Regions from separate parts of the Homo sapiens genome. Here region 1 is linked to region 2. Evidence: fine-mapped expression QTL. A gene starts in region 2. The other region holds a variant in brackets. All regions are shown on one strand. Distances are from middle to middle.

Region 1 (5,528 bases), 77 kb before region 2:
ACAGGTGTGAGCCACTGCACCCAGCCCTAAAGTAACTTTATATGCTAGTGACTTTATAGGGTCAAAGCATATCCAAAATAATTGCACTACTCTTCCAGAGTAATGGCCCACTAAGAATTTCTATACTTATTAGTTCCTCTAATAACTAAAATGCCTCTTGAATGAAATCATAGCTTATAAGATTCACCATTCACTTAACTTTAAATTGATAGAAAAATAAAAACTGTTTCAAAGATACAAAATCCTTACGGCCTCTAGTGGTAGGAGAATTAGTCAGACATAAGCCTCAAAAACAAAGGTGAGAGTAACATGGGTACAAACTGGGAGACGAGCAAGGGTGGGAGAGAAGCAAAGGTTAAAGAGCCAGGTGAGGCCCGGCACAGTGGCTCGTGCCTTTAATCCCAGCACTTTGGGAAGCTGAGGTGAGAGGATCACTTGAGCTCTGGAGTTCAAGACAAGCCTGGGCAACATGGCAAGACCCCATCTCTAATAAAAATAAATAAATAAAGAGCCAGGTGAGCAGGTGGAGGAAAACCATCTCAGACAGTTGAGCAAGAAAACTAAATTGGAGCCTCTTGGACCTAGCAGAGGATAGATTCAAAGATGGAAGGTATAGGCAAAGTTTAAGACAAAATTCCATTTCCAAATTGAAAATGAAGTTCTACCATCCAATATCTCTATCATGCACATTTTAAATATTCAGAATACTGAGAATAAAAGATAGTTACAAATATATCACAAAGAAATGTTAAAACTATAATTACAGTGACCCAGTTAAAAACTCTGGGGGAAAATGGGAATACACTAATAAGACGGGGAAGTTTGAAAACAATGTGTGGCCTCAAGTATTTCTCTAAATATCTTTATATAACCCATCAAAGTAAAACTTGAGTGTACCTTACCATATGTAATTTATACCTAAATAAAAATAAATAAGGCACACACACACACACAAAAACAATAGAGCTTGGGCTACAAACTCCCCCTGTCTAATCCCTAAAGATGATTTTTACTGGATCAGTTAATATATGGACTATTCCAGCATGTAAAGTTATCCAGCGATGTAACACTGCAATCTTCTTAAACTTACCCTTGAGAATTCCAGCCATCTATACTGAAAGCGCCTGCTAAGGTTTGGAATTCTGGAATAAACCATTCTCCACACCAAATAGTTGGCAATGGTCCTGTTAACAGAGAGAGATGCCCATTTATTGTATTTTAGGTCAATATCTGATGCTCTGCAGAACATCTTGAGAGAAACAGTTGGCAAAGCTCCATCGAGGGACCTCTTACTCATACAAAAATGCAGAACTTTCACTTGAGAAATGACATAAGATGATACAATGTCAATAAGCACAACCAAAATTGGCTTGCTTTTCACCACCTAACAGAGATAGATGAAGGAAAGATTCCAGCTCCAGCCCTCAGAGTGAACATTTTACTTTCACTCTCAGGGTATAAAGTCCACTGTTACACAGCCTTTCGTGTCTGGAAATTGTGAGTACCTTCAAATTACAGCAGATCCTCGAATAACATCATTTCATTCAACATCCTTTTGTTATACAGTTGATAAGGAAAAAACCAATTCTGGGCCAGGGTCACTGTCTGTGTAGAGTTTGCACATTCTCCTCAAGTCTGCACAGGTTTTCTCTGGGTGCTGTGGTTTCCTCCCACATCCCAAAGATGTGCCTGCTAGGTTAATCGGCGTGTCTACACATTCCCAGTGTGAGTGAGCATGGTGAGCTACTGCACCCTGTGACAGGATGGCATCCTAGCCAGGGCTGGATCCTGCCTGGTGCCCTGAGCTGCCTAGATAGGCTCCAGCACCTGCAACCCTGAACTAGAATAACTGGGTTAATAATTATCTTACTTTCCCCTTCCTGTGTCCAAGTGTTCTCATTGTTCAATTCCCACCTACGAGTGAGAACATGCGGTGTTTGGTTTTTTGT[C/T]CTTGTGATAGTTTGCTGAGAATGATGGTTTCCAGCTTCATCCATGTCCCTACAAAGGACATGAACTCATCATTTTTTATGGCTGCATAGAGGGAGGGGGGAGGGATAGCATTAGGAGATATACCTAATGTAAATGACGAGTTGAGTTAATGGGTGCAGCACACCAACATGGCACATGTATACATATGTAACAAACCTGCACGTTGTACACATGTACCCTAGAACTTAAAGTATAATTTAAAAAATGAAAACAAGGATAAAAAAAAGAATATGTCTACAAAAACATTGAATGGGTTCCAAAGATCAAAAAAAATTATCTTACTTGCTTTTATTTGTCTTTCTTAAATGTACGCATAGCTCACATGTATTCAATGTTCAATATTAGAAGTGTTTTGGTCTTTATTTAGAAGTTTGGTGATGTTTTTGTGAGCAGGAATATGCCATGGGAACTTAACTCTTGTTTACATCAATTAGCCTATGGTAAAATTGATTTCATTATCTGTCATTTTGCTTAAAGTCACAGTTTCCAAGAAGCTATCGATGATGTTAAGTGAGGACTTACTGGATTAGGTGACTTGATACAATGCCTATGTATTCTTTGCCTTTGGAAACTAACAGCAAAATATTGGCTAATACCAATCATCTAATTTTGCACCCTCATTCTATACTTACTAAATATGTGAGTTTCGACAAGTCACTTAAGGTCTGTGATTTTATCTTTATTTTTCATACAATGAGGATGATCCCTACCTTACAGAGTTGTTGCAGGGTTCAAATAAATAACAAAATGCTTGACAAATAGTCAATTTCTAGGGTTTTGTCTTTCACTTCCAAATGTATGAACAACCTCATAAGCTCATGTAATGCCTATAATACATATCTTTAAAAATCTGTTAAATTTTAAGGGTTGCCTTTTTCTATAAGCAAAAGATGACCTGACCTCAGAAGAATGTGTGATCTCAGTTAATTTCTAACTCAATAGTGATGATGGATCTTTAATGATCCATTCCCCTCCCAGCTGTGCCATTACCATGGTGACTAATAACACACATTCCTGAAATGGCTTTCTGGTGAGCCAATCACATGAGAGCAATATGACATGATGATGCTAAAAGCCCATCAAGAACAAACTACACTCTCATTTGTATGACATTCTGACACAGTGGACATGCGCTCCTACTAGTAAAATATTTTTCAGCATACACACCCAATACATGGATGTTTAATTTCTATAGAGATATACTAATAGACTAATATATTAGGAATATTTTTAACAAATACAAAAACAGAAATTTCAAAAGATGAGGTAAAATGAAATTTAAAATCTTCAAAAGTCATTAATTCTTCAAACACCATTGGGTTAATTCTTCAAGACACAGTGTCCATATAGGATTTGGTTAATACAACAATGACAATGAATATAAATCCACATTTCTTAGAGTCTTCTTGACTATTTCAAAAATGTATGACATGTCTTTGTCAGATTGCCATTGTCCTTGTTCTTGTTAGACCACCATTGTATTTCTTTTGTCATCTGGCTAACCAACATGGCATACCAGCCTGGGAGAAGGGTCACTTCTGCCAATTTCTAGCTGTTCTCTTGTGCTTACATCATCAATAATCATTTCAATTCCTGTTTCCTGCAAGAATTTTTAAGCCACTTGTCTACTTTGTAAGTAGTAAACTAGATAAACTAGATAATAAAATTCATAAATCCACAGCTATATGTAAACCGCTCAAGATTTTTTTTTTTTTTTTTGAAGATGGAGTCTTGCTCTGTCGCCCAAGCTGGAGTGCAATGGCGCGATCTCCACTCACTGCAACCTCTGCCTCCTAGGTTCAAGCAATTCTCCTGCCTCAGCCTCCCAAGTAGCTGGGATTACACATGCCCGCCACCACGACTGGCTAATTTCTATATTTTTAGTACTGATGGGGTTTCACCATGTTGGTCAGGCTGGTCTCAATCTCCTGACCTCAGGTGATCCTCCCGCCTCAGCCTCCCAAAGTGCTGGGATTACAGGCGTGAGCCACCGTATCAGCTGAGATTATTTTTAATATATTGAATGAAAACAAGCCAGTGAGGGTGACAGTGCCCCTCTCACATGTTCCATACAGATCAAATGAAGGGTCCATAGCCATCAATATAGAACTCAATAAAGTGTAATTATTTTTCTTTATAAAGTTTTTTTATTTCAATAGCTTTTGGGGATGTAAATGGTTTTTGGTTATATGGATAAATTGTATAGTGGTGAAGTCTGAGATGTTAGTGCACCCATCACCCAAGTAATGTACACTGGATCCAATCTATAGTTTTTTTATGCCTCATCCCCTTCCTACCCTCCCTGCTTCTGAGTCTCCAAAGTCCATTATACCACTCTGTATAAAGCCTAATTATTTTTAAATTTAAATAAAGATATAGAAGTTCTAAAATGTTCTTCTCAGACCCAATGGATCTTGTTAGGATATGCGCATTCCCCTAAGACACCACTGCACTAATCAGCAAAGTCCAGCCCTTGCCCATCTCTGTTGAGGCCACTAAGTGGTTTGGGGTCATTCCTTTGGCTCTTTTGCATTCACATCTCCACTCCTTAATAGGACAAGAAGTGCTCACTGAGCACTTATTGTTGGCCAAGTATTGTGCCAGATGCCATGAGGAACGTAAAGAAGTAAGAACCCAGCACCTACAGTTAGAGAACTCAAAGTCCAGCTGGGAACACAGGACTTCAGATTTCAGCTTGTTCATGTAATTGGGTTGTTTAATTGAAGGGACACACTGTCAGTACATAAGGGTCTTTCTTTCATTCACTCAATCAACACATCCTGAGCACCCACATATATACTAACAGTTCTCTGTGCTGGGGAGATGGATAGTCCCTGATTTCCTGAAGCTTTTAGCTGAGCAGGGGAGATGAGGCAAGTGCATAAATAATGATTTGGTAGACACTAGCACCCAAAAGTATGTGCCAGACACTTCACTGTAAGGATAGTACATCTCAAACTGAGGGTTAAGAGTAGGCTTCATGAGAGAAGCATGCCGAAAGGTTAAAAGGCTTTGGTGTTGCAAACAGGAACGTGAACTCTGGACAGGCTAAATAATGGTGGAATCGGCTGATATGTTGGAGAGGATGGTGAACAGGATCATCACTCAAGGAAGTGGGCAGAAAGGCCAGCCACACTGGGGAGATGCAGACAGCGACCAGGTCATGGTGTCTAGCACATTAATGGGCCGATCTTGGTCCTAGTGCAAGGACTTTATGTTCTTTGTCTCTAAAATACCTCTTACCAGGCATGTGAACCATGCTGGATCCATAGGTGGAGACGAGAAGGAGGTCAACAGCCAGCAGATGTCCTTTCATCAGTTCAAAAGATATTCCCTCAAAGGGGTGGTGATGAGCCAGAATAACTAGGGAAGTTGTTAGGGGGCCCAATGGTGGTGGTGGAAGATGTAGTATGGCAAAGTATACTGGGGTTTGAGAAGCAGGGGCCCTTCCAGCTCCCCTGAGATCATCCCATTTAGGCATCTCACATTAATTATGATCCTCACAGTGCTGCTGTAAGAGAGATGTTATTATACCCATT
Region 2 (5,000 bases):
TGAGTAGTTGCAAGAGGCCGTATGGCCCACAGAGCCAAATATATTCACTATCTATCTGGCTCTTGGCAGAAAAAGTTTGCCAGCCAGTGCATCTGAGAAACAGATTGTGGGGAGGAAAGAGAGGGGAAGGAGAAGAAGAAAGGTTTTCCATTCTGGTGCTCTGTAGCTTCTCAGAAGCCACTGCAAGACCACTGGCAATCACTCTTACTGTAGAAGCACTAAGGTTGCGAGGAGAGATTATCCCAGAGCCTCAGATACAAAGATGAGGTACGAAGGGATGCTAGAAATTGCAGGCATGTAAGTGAATGTGGACAGGCAGAGAAATATACCACAAAGTCAAGCAGGAAGCCCCTTGAAGAGACGACGACCCTAACTAGAATATTGTCATGAAGAGCATTGCCAGGCAGGTCCCTGGAGCTTTTCAGACAAGCACTTTGCCTGGGTGCAGAGTGGAGGTGGGTGGCAGAGTTGAGGAGAGGGACGGGGAGAGGGGGTAAGGGGGTGATTCTAAAATAGTGCAGAAATATTTGACAAAAAGAAGTGTCCCTGAATGTATACATCCAAATAGATATGGTCACCTGAAGCAATGCTTCTCAAACCTGCATTTGCAAACAGTCCCCTGGGGGTCTTGTGAAAATGCAGATTGTGAATCAGCGGGTCTGGGGTGGAGCTCAAGCTCCCCAGTGATGCTAATGCTGCTGGTCCACAGACCCCATTTTGAGAAGCAAAGTTGTAGAGGCCACAGCCTCAGTTTGCCCTTATTCTCTAACATCATTTGAGCTCCTCTTAGAGAGTCAAGGTGAGAGCCAGGTTATTGGGCACGCTGGAAAGTTCTCTTTCATATTTTATGCAGGCCTCCTTATCCATAATAGTAGCGTCTGGCTTGATGAATTTTACTTTGCTCTAAAAACATCGGCACTATTTCCTGAGAATAATTTTCTCTGAAAGAACAAAGATTTGCTGCCGCGGAGAATCTTTCAACCGATATGCCACGGCCTCAGGAGGTAATCATAAAAGTAGAGTTTTGTAAAAGTTTCGTGCAGTGGTAATATCGTTAAAAAGAGTACATATTTTTACATAAACAATAATTATTGGGATTTTTAAGTTTGGGAGCATTTGCAAAACCTAACCTTGCAGTCACGTTGCACGTAGCCTGTAGTCTTTTGGCATGCCCATAGAATTTTTCCTCTTGTTTGGAATTTCAGCAGAGGACCCTTGTTTAAACCCTAAGTGCTGAGAAATCTTACAAGAGTTTTCAAGAGCCACAGATTCAGTTGCAGGAGTAGGAGATTTCGCTTTATCAGAAAGCAATAAACCCATCTAATTTCCTAAATCTTCAGCCACAGAAAGCGTGGAAAGATGGTTTGCTCATTTTAGCAGTTTTCAACCACACAACCCTAACTCTTTTAAAGTTTAATTACTGGTTTACCCCTGCCAAAATAAACATGGCCTCCTGCAGGTTTGCTACATTTCAAACTGCACCTAGAATCTCCTCGTTCCTATGTAACGTTCAAGTTAATGAAGTATTATGGGTTGTATGAGAAAAATTAAAACGGTAATAGTCAAGGGTTCAGAAAGCCTAGAATTTTAGAAAATCCCTCACTCCTTTCCAAGATATTTGATTCTTTTTCATGGGAATACACTTCTATCATCCTATATACTCTCTGGGTACATCATTCTCACCAACAGTCATTAAAATAACTGAATCACAATATCTTTCAAATCTTGGGGGAAAACCTCTGTTTTCCTTCATATTAATTTGTAAATCAAATTGCATCTCACCAGAGTCACTGGATAAGAAAGGAATTGAAGAATATCATTAAAAGCACACTTTAAAGGACTGATTTGTGTTTTGTGAATTAAATTTCATGATTCGTTCAAGCAAACATTAATAAAAGTCAAATGGAAAGACACTCCAGCATGGTTTTCATCACAATGTAAAGTCTTTCCTCAAAATATAAATGAAACTATGTGACTATGAATTCACAAACACTCATTTTGCTAAATGTACCACATAAAAAATTTTCCACCCAATGCAACAGAATCAGCCAGCCACTCGAAGCCACTTACACCCACTTTGCCTTCTGGACTATACATTTGGTACTTGGGTGTATTTATTTATTTAGGCTCCTTAAAAAAGCCTTCTTTATCATTTGCATATTTGATAGAAACTAAAGATACACCACCTATGAACGCAGGCAAACAGCCCTATACCTGTGTTATGACAAGTTTTGCTACAATAAAGCACAAGGAAACTTCTCGACACACACCCAGTTCCCCCGGCCTCCTGCACTCCACTTACCTAGAAAGAGGATCGTGCCCAGAACTAGGGTGCCACCGACAAACACGACCAGGGCAATTCGAGTGCCTCTGTTGGCCTTCTTTCCAGTCTCCACGCTGCTCCCTGTTTCTGCTTCCATCAGAAGGGCCGTAGAGAGCACACGAGAAGAAAGTCACTTTTCGTGGTTTGGTGGCTGGTCTCAAGAGCGAGGCGTTGACATCCAAGGCTTTCTTGCTCTTCTACTAATGGACAGCTTAAGAAACTGCCGTCAGGAAATCTCCCCTCGCCACCCTTTCTCAAATAATTCTTCACAAATGAAAATTATAAAAACCAAAATATTGGTTGCCTTGGCTTTCCCCCTGACTAGACAAAACAAACAGTGTTGCTTTATCTTGGTGCTCTCCCTCAGCAAAGTCCCTGTTTGGCAGGCTCTTCTCTCAAGCGTTCCGAGTATATATGTTTTACTATGTTGCTGAACAGATGTTTTAGCTATTTAAATGTATAGTCACTTGGGGAGGAAAAAAACAATTGTTTTATCAAAACTGGATTCTCGTGAAACTCCCCCAAATCATGATAAGTTAGGTGGCCAGGATTCACCGGACCCACTTCAAGATCTCAATTAATCATGTAATTCTGTTGCAAGAATCATTCTGCTTGCCTGAATTGTCTTCATCAAAGATATTCTTTCAGTGTGTGAGTCCCTTTTTAAAGCCTTCTAAGAGTTCCTAGGATATCCTGGAGCATTTTATTTCAGGAACTTTGTGTATGATAGCATGTGCCAAAAATCAGTCATAGTCCAGTGCAGTGCAAAGTAGCAATTAAGACAACCTACAGAGGCTGATGGTTTGAACTGGAACTTTTTCTTAAAGGAAGGAGAAAAAGCACTTCCTCTTTGTGGTACTAAGAAGTGTACAAAAAAAAAAACCCACAAAAAAACACAAGTGCGTGAATTAAGTTTATTAGCAACTACAAAAGATATGATGAAAAATTTTTTCCTTGTGTGTTTTTGATGAAAAGTGCACCATGTGTTTTGTCTGCCACTCCTACTGAGGCAGCCATTCATTAGGATGTTTTTGTGTTTACATAAACTGTCCACTTCAGCAGATTCCCCAGGATGAATTCAAAGGCAATTGGTTTCAGGCCGGGCGTAGTGGCCCACGCCTGTAATCCCAGCACTTTGGGAGGCTGAGGCAGGGGGCTCGCTTGAGGCCAGGAGTTCGAGACCAGCCTGGCCAACAAGGCGAAACCTTGTTTGTACTAAAAACACAAAAATTAGCCGGGCATGTTGGTGAGCACCTGTATTCCCAGCTACTCAGGAGGCAGAGGTGGGAGAATCGCTTGAGCCTGGGAGGTGGAGGTTGCAGTGAGCCAGATCGCGCCACTGCACTCTAACCTGGGTGACAGAGAGAGAGACCCTGTCTCAAAAATAAACAAACAAAAAACAAAGGCAGTTGACTTCACTGGAAAGACTGATGAATGACTGGGTCTTTGATATTTTTGATTATGATAATGATTTAAACGATAACAATGTGCTTTCTTCATGGGGAAGGGCAACTGATATTCCAATGCTACCACTGAAATGATATAGATTTTATTATCCAAAGATATAGATATCGTTAACTCACAACACAATTACTACCTACCTGCTTTTGTTTTGCTGGAGGTCATAGGGCAGTGGGAGTGGGGGTGGAGAATTCAACTATATCTAGAAACCAGTAGAGCAATTATCTCAATGCAAAACTTGTGCGCATGGCTTTAGAGGTGACACAGGAGCTCAGCAGGTGCTGATGAGCTCAGTATAACATGGCCACACATTCATGGTCCTGTCTGGCTTGTCTTGGTCAGGGCTTAAGCCCTTAGCATGGGATTCTCTCAAGTTTTGGGGCTTATTCCATAATATACCTTACTTTCTGCTCATTTCATGTTGCGCCAAAGTCAGGGGGTCACAAGCCTTTGTCCAAGTTATGACATCATGGTGTGTTGTAGTTATCCTGTGCTCATTGGCTGTTGACATTATTTTGTTGCTGTTATTCCATAACACACCCTAGCAGGACTTTGGCCCCTAGTATGGGATTCTCCCAAGAGTTTTTGGACCTCACTCTAGAACACATCTTAGACCATGAGTTCCACAAAGTCAGGAACCATGTTCAATGTTGCAGCTCCAACATCGACATTTCCTGGCCCTTCACAGTGAAAAGGAGAGCAATAAAAATCATACAAGTTAGCCCTAGCCACTTACTCTTAACAACCAGCTTCAGCTGGGCGCAGTGGCTCACGCCTGTAATCCCAGTACTTTGGGAGGCCAAGGCGGGTGGATCACGAGGTCAGGAGTTCGAGACCAGCCTGGCCAACATGGTGAAACCCTGTCTCTACTAAAAATACAAAAAATAGCCGGGCGTGGTAGCAGGCGCCTGTAATCCCAGCTACTCAGGAGACTGAGGCAGGAGAGTTGCTTGAACTCAGGAGGCGGGTTGCAGCGAGCTGAGATCATGCCACTGAACTCTAGTCTGGGCGGCAGAGCAAGACTGTCTGGAAAAAAACAAATACAAAACAAAACAAAACAAAAAACCAACTTCGGGGCCAGAAGTGGTGGCTCACACCTGTAATCCCAACACTTTGGGAGGCTGAGGTGGGCAGATCACTCTAAGTCAGGAGTTCGAGATCTGCCTGGCCAATGTGGCGAAACCCTGTCTCTACTAAAAATACAAAAATTAGCCAG

Direction of the effects. Alleles are on the strand shown, and positions count from the first base shown. SD is a standard deviation of normalised expression in the study named.
For the expression in spleen of the gene that starts at base 3,101 in region 2, C is the high allele of the variant in region 1 and T is the other (moderate effect, 0.59 SD a copy in GTEx).

The links. PIP is the estimated chance that this variant, and not a neighbour inherited with it, causes the effect.
Region 1: its variant is fine-mapped to the expression of PHEX in spleen (GTEx, PIP above 0.99).

The regions. Positions count from the first base shown.
Region 1 is chrX:22,107,123-22,112,650 of GRCh38, reverse strand. It overlaps PHEX (phosphate regulating endopeptidase X-linked), which reads right to left. Exons shown (of 22, transcript NM_000444.6): 10 at 1,091-1,184. Among named protein-coding and RNA genes, the nearest start is that of PHEX-AS1, 63 kb to the left of the region's middle. The variant C/T (reference allele first, on the strand shown) is at 1,950.
Region 2 is chrX:22,030,426-22,035,425 of GRCh38, reverse strand. It overlaps PHEX (phosphate regulating endopeptidase X-linked), which reads right to left and starts at 3,101. Exons shown (of 22, transcript NM_000444.6): 1 at 2,303-3,101. The coding sequence starts at 2,420.